2 linked regions of the Homo sapiens genome follow. The protein of the gene in region 2 purifies or fractionates together with the protein of the main gene of each other region. This does not show direct contact. Each region holds a gene or a part of one and is shown on either strand. Other genes may lie near its edges.

Region 1 (3,753 bases), on a different chromosome or scaffold from region 2:
ATATTTTCTCATAATCTGGTGTTCTTCAATTGACTTAAATGTCTTTTACCATTTACAAAGTTTCAGCATCTGAAAAGGCAAACAGCTATCTCTTCTTTTATAGCTTCCAGTTTTCTAATGCTGAAAAGTCTCCCCCACATAAGACTATAGTTTCCTAGTTTTCCTTACAGGATTTTTATTATTGGTATTTTTATAGAGTATGACAGATGGCAAATTTTGTTTTTTTAACCAAAAAAAATTCATGTAGCAGCATGACTTATTAAATCATGCTTTGCCTACTGAACTGAATTACCACAATAGACACATTAAATCCTCATAAATGCCAGACTTTATTTCAGGATTCTCTATTCTGCTTCACTGGTCCATTTTTCTCTTCTTCTATCAATACCATATTGATTAGATCACTATGGCTGTATTCAAGTCTACAATTCCTAGCCCCAAAAGCTATAAAAACTAAAAGTGCTTTTGTATTTTTTTGTAAGTTCGTGGCATGAGGTATTTACAGTCTTCATTTCTTCTACTTGGTATGTATATTGATATATATATTTCTGCAGAAATATTAATGTGTTTTGTTGCAGGATGCAGCTCCTGGCCTGCGATTAGATTATTGTATGTAATGCACATTATATGCACTGTATTGCCTTTCTGAAATCCAAATAATTTTAAATACCAAAACACATGTGGCCCCAAGGGATTCTGAAGTGGATTGTGGTCTTTGCCTTTTTTTAAATCCTCGTAACATCCTTGTAAGGTAAGGACTGCTCCCTCTTACAGTTAAGAAAAATTAGGGGCTGGGCGCAGTGGCTCATGACTGTAATCCCAGCACTTTGAGGGGCCGAAGCGGGCAGATCACGAGCTCAGGAGTTCGAGACCAACCTGACCAACATGGTGAAACCCCGGCTCTACTAAAAATACGAAAATTAGCCAGGCATAGGGGCGGGCGCCTGTAATCCCAGCTACTCAGGAGGCTGAGGCAGAAGAATCGCTTGAACCTGGGAGGCGGGGATTGCAGTGAGCTGAGATCGCTCCACTGCTCTCCTGCCTAGGTCATAGAGCAAGACTCCGTCTCAAAAAAAAAAAAAAAAGAAAAAGAAAAATTAGGTAGTCCCAGCACTTTGGGAGGCTAAGGCGGCTGGATCACGCCACTGTGCTCCAGCTGGGACAACAGAGCAAGACCCTGACACACACACACACACACACACACACACACACACACACACGGTTCATCTCTCTCCCTTCTTACAGCCACTGTGCTCCAGCTGGGACAACAGAGCAAGACCCTGACACACACACACACGGTTCATCTCTCTCCCTTCTTACAGCTATTCATCCTTCATATCTGAAGCGTCACTTCCTCACAAAGTCTTCTCTGAGCCCCCAACCTAGGTTAGTTTTATGTTCCCAGGGATTCTGCCCCAACACCCACTACTTTTTCACTGCTTGTTTTTTTTATTTTGGCTACACTGTGAGATCCATGAAAACAAAGAACAAATCTGTATTCACCTCTGCAATCCCAAAAGGTTTGATATAGCACCTAACATAATCCAAAGTGTTAAGTGTTCAATAAACATTCATTGAAAAAAGTAGGCCGGGTGCAGTGGCTCACGCCTGTAATCCCAGCACTTTGGGAGGCTGAGGCTGGGGGATCACCTGAGGTCAGGAGTTTGAGAACAGCCTAACCAACATGGTGAAACCTGTCTCTACTAAAAATACAAAATTAGCCAGGCATGGTGGTGCATGCCTGTAATCCCACCTACTTAGGAGGCTGAGGCAGGAGAATCACTTACAACCTGGGAGGCAGAAGTTGCAGTGGGCTGAGATCGTGCCATTGCACTCCAGACTGGGCAACAAGCATGAAACTCCGTGTCAAAAAAAAAAAGAAAGAAAAAATAAATGACTAGTCCCAAAAGCTATAAAAACTAAAAGTGCTTTTGTATTTTTTTGTAAGTTTGCGGCATGAGGTTTTACAGGTAGTCTGACCCACAGAAAGGCCAGAGGTGTTAGTGACAATACAGAAAAAATATCTGAGCTAGAAGGGGTCTACTTTCTCCCATTTTACAGATGTAAAGATGGAAAGAACCAGAGCATTGCTGGGAACTCGACTAGGTGACAAAGCTAGACCAAGAACCTGGGACTCCTACTCTTAGGTAATGTGTCTATGACAGAGTGGCCTCAGACATTCAGGACACATTAAAGAGTTTACCAACTTGTTAGAATCCTGAAGCCACAGAAAACGGTTTGCAAAGAACGTCTACGTCTCCTTCTTATTATGTCTCTTGTTTATGTCTATTATAAAGATAATGGCGCCGGGCGTGGTGGCTCACGCCTGTAATCTCAGCTACTCAGGAGGCTGAGCACAATAATTGCTTGAACCCAAGAGGCAGACATTGCAGTGAGCCAAGATCGCACCATTGCACTCCAGCCTGGATAAAAAGAGCGGGACTCCGTCTCAAAAAAAAAAAAGGCTGGGCATGGTGGCTCACACCTGTAATCCCAGCACTTCGGGAGGCCAAGGCAGGCAGATCACCTGAGGTTGGGAGTTCAAGACCAGCCTGGCCAACATGGTGAAACCCCATCTCTACTAAAAATACAAATATTATCCAGGCGTGGTGGTGCATGCCTGTAATCCCAGCTACTCAGGAGGCTGAGGCAGGAGAATTGCTTGAACTCGCAAGGCGGAGGTTGTGGTGAGCTGAGATCGTGCCATTGCACTGCAGCCTGGGCAACAGAGTGAAACTCTGTCTCAAAAAAAAAAAAAAAAAAAAATTCCTCATGATATAACAATTTTCAAAAGTATAATTACAACTTTAAGGAATCAGAAAGAAGTTCAAGGTCTCAGAATCAATACTACAAAACAGAAATCCTTAAACTCTGAGTCACAGCATCTGGGAAGACATGCCTCTGAGTATTTCTAAATTTATTTCTTTTTTTTTTTTTTTTTTTTTTGAGACGGAGTCTCACTGTTGCCCAGGCTGGAGTGCAATGGCGCGATCTCGGCTCACTGCAAGCTCCGCCCCCCGGGGTTCACGCCATTCTCCTGCCTCAGCCTCCAGAGTAGCCGGGACTACAGGCGCCCGCCACCTCGCCTGGCTAATTTTTTGTGTTTTTAGTAGAGACGGGGTTTCACCGTGTTAGCCAGCATGGTCTCGATCTCCTGACCTCGTGATCCGCCAGCCTCGGCCTCCCAAAGTGCTGGGATTACAGGCGTGAGCCACCGCGCCCGGCCTTCTAAATTTATTTCTAAGCATCAGTTTCTAATATTTGCCCAGTCTCATCTCCTAGGTTATTAGTTAAAACCTCCTCAGGCCGGGTGCAGTGGCTCACACCTGTACTCCCAGCGCTTTAGGAGGCCGAGGTGGGTGGATCACTTGAGGTCAGGGGTTCGAGACCAGCCTGGCCAACATGGTGAAACCTCATCTCTACTAAAAATACAAAAATTAGCCAGGCATGGTGGCGCCTGCCTGTAATCCCAGCTACTTGGGAGGCTGAGGCACAAGAATCACTTAAACCCAGGAGGCGGAGGTTGCAGTGAGCCTAGATTATGCCACTGCACTCCAGCCTGCGCAACAGAATGAGACTCCATTTCAAAAAATAAAATAAAATAAAATAAATAAAAGTAAAAATAAAACCTCCTGGCCAGGCACAGTGGCTTATACCTGTAATCCCAGCACTTTGGGAGGCCGAGGCGGGTGGATCATGAGGTCAGGAGTTCGAGACCAGCCTGGCCAATATGATGAAACCTCGTCTCTATCA
Region 2 (3,753 bases):
ACTTTCAGAGAGTATTTGGGGGGGAGGTTAACAAGATGTGGTGCCATTTATAAGCAGTGTTATTGTTTTTGCTTGCCCCGCTGCCACAAGTCAGCTAAGTCATAACAAAAGCTTCAAACTGATGCTAAGGAAGGCCATGCCCTTTGGAAACAATAAATTCCCAATCTGTTTTATGTTATGTACCTGACATCTTTTCCTGCATTCTCTACCAGGAAATAAAGATGAAATTAAATATCAAAATTCTAATCGATGATATCAGTGCAATGTTCAGGAACTATTCATTAAGATATTAGAAAACCATTCAAAGTGGTAGGACATCAGAGCCTACTTCTTACATTGCTGTGGGAGAAATGCAGGTTTCAAATTTAATATATATATATAATTTTTTTAAAAGCAGAAGTTTCTTTTTATATTTGGTAAACTTAAGTTCCATAAAGCCAGACGCTATACAGTGCAAAGGCTAATGTGGCAATAGCTCTAAAGACACAGTTGCTGCTCAGGTTTTATGTATAGATAATAGAAAGCACAGTTTACTAACACAGTAAACCAACAGAGTTCAAGTCAGATGAGTACCCTAAGAATTAATTAGATTTTATTTCTTATGCTCGAAATTTGCTACACAAGGACTTATCTAACCTTTATTTTGCTCTGTTGCTGACTTGATTCAAGTCTCAGTGTGTTCTGTGCTGACTGTAAGATGCAGAAGTCCTCACACCTGGCAAAGAAGAGTTCAAACTGAAAAGGGGTTTGGTGCTTCCTGGTTTGTCCAGGTTACCTGTTATTAATTTATTATTAGCAGCCCAAGAGGAGATATGTGCCCAATGTACAATATCTTATGTTTGACTTATAAACATTATCCCAAAGCAACATCAAATACAGTTCAAAAGCCCAAGAGGAAAGGGGGTAATAAGAAATCAGAACACTGAAGAATGTTTAAAACATTGTTTTCTAAACACTAACAAAAAAAATTAAGGGCAAACTGAAAATACAAATGAGATTTACAGGCACTGTGTGTAGAATGTGCAAAAATTCACTTAGCTTTTCTTTTGTTTTTTTGGTGTTGCTTTAAGAAACTTTATCAAATATATTTCTTACAAATATAAAGCTTTCTCTCCCAATTGAAGGCAATTAAAAAAATTCAAAGTTTATCAATACTCAGTACACAGGTGAACCAGTCAAATTCATTTTCTTTCTGGAAAAGAATAACAAACCAATATTTAGGATGTTCAGAGACTCAACAAAAACCATTCTAGAAATCACCCAGAACAATTGTTTTCTGTTGCCAAAGCCTTTTGTTCTTCAAAAGTCACCATCCACCAGCTGAAGATTTTACATGCAGATACCTTAAAAATTTCAAATAAAAAATGCAGTGAATCATTTAATATGTAATTTTCTTGTTACAGACATAGTAAATATACCACTTAGCAAAAGCATTGTATAACAGACAGAAGGAATTTCCTATAAGTAAACATGAAAGTGGATTAATAGAATTTTTTTTAATTTTGGGAAAAATGTTAGAGCAGTTCTACCTAATATAGCTCCTTTTTTCCTAGGAAATAAACATGGATCATGGTGAGAGAGCTGAACCCGATTTAACCTATACTTTGATTTCTTTTAGGCTTTGGTCAGTAAGTGCTTGTATGCTTTTAAGGCTTACATTAAGCCCTCTCCTTTCTGAAGATTAAGATAAGGGCCCAGTTCTGAAGATCTCAGAAATCCCTTCAATCTGTCCAGTTTCTTCAGCAATTATAAATTAGAATCAAACACAGTACTTTACTTTCCAAAATAATGACAAATAAAAATGGCCAATCTTTTCCTTTGCCCTTGTTCCCAAAACCCTGTAATTTCCACCAGACTCTAAAGGGTACTTCTCCCCACCCCACCATGTATTGGTATTCTGGGGAATGCCAATGTCTTCAGGACATTTCGCTAAGTTGTAACATGCTAATTTTGCTTTGCCACAATAACCTGCAGTAATGAGCATTTGGATTTCAAAGATTCAACTAGCCTCAGATGGTCATTCTAAGTGCCTGGCCTAATATTTTTAAAAGCTTTTAATTATAAGATTAAGGTTTTTAAACATTTCAATAGCAAACTCATCCCATTTAGTGCTTTCAGAGAATGACCAATTACTCTGTAGATCTTGCAGTATGCATTTCATGCCAATACTGTAAAGTGAGCATGAATTACTCAAGAGGTGGACTTCACTTCTCTCATCTATAACACATAAATTGGCAGAAGATACAGTTGTCTTCATTTACAAATAAACACCCAACTTACCAGATACCTTAACTTGTATTTCTTTAGTCATCTTTTGGCTTGGAAGTTTCCTCTGTTGTCTAAAAGGGAAAGCAAAACCATCCGTGAGCTTTCTTTTCTGTATTAAGTATGAGGAGATGGCCTTCTCAGAATTAGGGGACAAAAGATGGCAGTCAGTGGGGAAAAATAAGATGGTCCTTTCAGTTTCTCTTCTTCATCTGGCCACAATATTGTGAGTTCTTCCTCCTCAAGCTTATAAGCTAAAAATAACCTTAAGTGATCCTGATCCTAAATGTATCACTCTCAGCTTTATTTTTTTAAGGCTAGGGTAGGTTATAAAATATGCATAGGTGTTCTTAAATGGCAATGTTTCATTCTGTGGTGATCCTTCCTTTCCTGTACATAGGGTCATGGCTGTCCAGTAAATCCACTCATCATAAAGGGTTATTATGCTTTCTATTATTTGTTAAAGGGCTGATTAAGTACTTCGTATAACTGAAATTAAATAATAGGCAAATAAGTATTTAAACTGAGATATAATGGCATAACTGCCAATTATCAATGCTGTTTCCTATATCCCTTAAGGGAATCTACTACAGGAAGATTTTAATATATTGTTTTAAAAGCTTTGGTGTAACTGGACTATTGTCTTTAAAGCTACACCTTTAACTCCTCCTTATAGCCAGGGGATCATAGTAATAATCATTTAAATCATATGTTCTTGGAATTGGAAGGGACCTAGAAGTTGTCTAATCCAATTTTCATTTCTCATCACAGCTTGAGTAATTTTAATAATAGGAAGTTTCCAACTTCCATGTTCTAAAATCTATATAAACCACATACTATGGTGGTATTTTAATTAGGGCAAGAAAGACAGGCAAAACACAGGCAAATTGGGTTGTGTCAAGAACATTCATTTAGGATTTTAAAGCACCAGTTACTTAAAAATATATGTATTTATACAAATTCAATTACTTTACCAAGCGATGCTATGGGATAGATAGTACTTTAAGAAATTTTATTCTAAATAGATTCCAGTAGGAAACTAAATGACTGAAATGATAAACCCTACTCTGTGTAACTGCTAAACTAATTTGTAGTATATTTACTGCTCCATTTACCTTTGCTGAATCCTTCGCTTTACCTCCATTCTTAGGTGCTTTGGAGCTGGAAGCAGCCTTCTTGCACTTATCCTAAAGCAAAGGAAATGTAATGAGGCTATGGCTATCACCAATCCATCTAGCAATTAACTAGGCTGCAGTTAAATTAATCCAGACCATTCTGAGATCTCCAATTTAATTAAATAATGGAAGACTTTGGGTGTTTTTTCATGATTTTTTTTGAACAACGGTGTCAGAGAATTGTTTAAAGCAGGAGGGAAAAAGGATAGAAATAAGGAGGGAAATGTGGGTGACATTGATGCTCTAATTCCCGTGGTGCCTGACTCACCCAGACCTTATTTTGCTAATCAAAACAGAGCTTGTCAATAGATAA

Evidence for each region. Proteins that work in one complex are often made in the same cells at the same time.
Region 1: the proteins of CAST (region 2) and NUDC fractionate together in Homo sapiens (co-fractionation; 2 studies listed by BioGRID). This does not show direct contact.

Annotation. Positions count from the first base shown.
Region 1 is NC_000001.11:26,924,732-26,928,484, reverse strand, and holds part of NUDC (nuclear migration protein nudC), read right to left. Parts: intron 1-3,753. UniProt on the Homo sapiens protein: Plays a role in neurogenesis and neuronal migration. Necessary for correct formation of mitotic spindles and chromosome separation during mitosis. Necessary for cytokinesis and cell proliferation.
Region 2 is NC_000005.10:96,770,230-96,773,982, reverse strand, and holds part of CAST (calpastatin), read right to left. Parts: intron 3,453-3,753; coding exon 3,381-3,452; intron 2,340-3,380; coding exon 2,304-2,339; 3' UTR 2,281-2,303; intron 1,344-2,280; 3' UTR 1-1,343.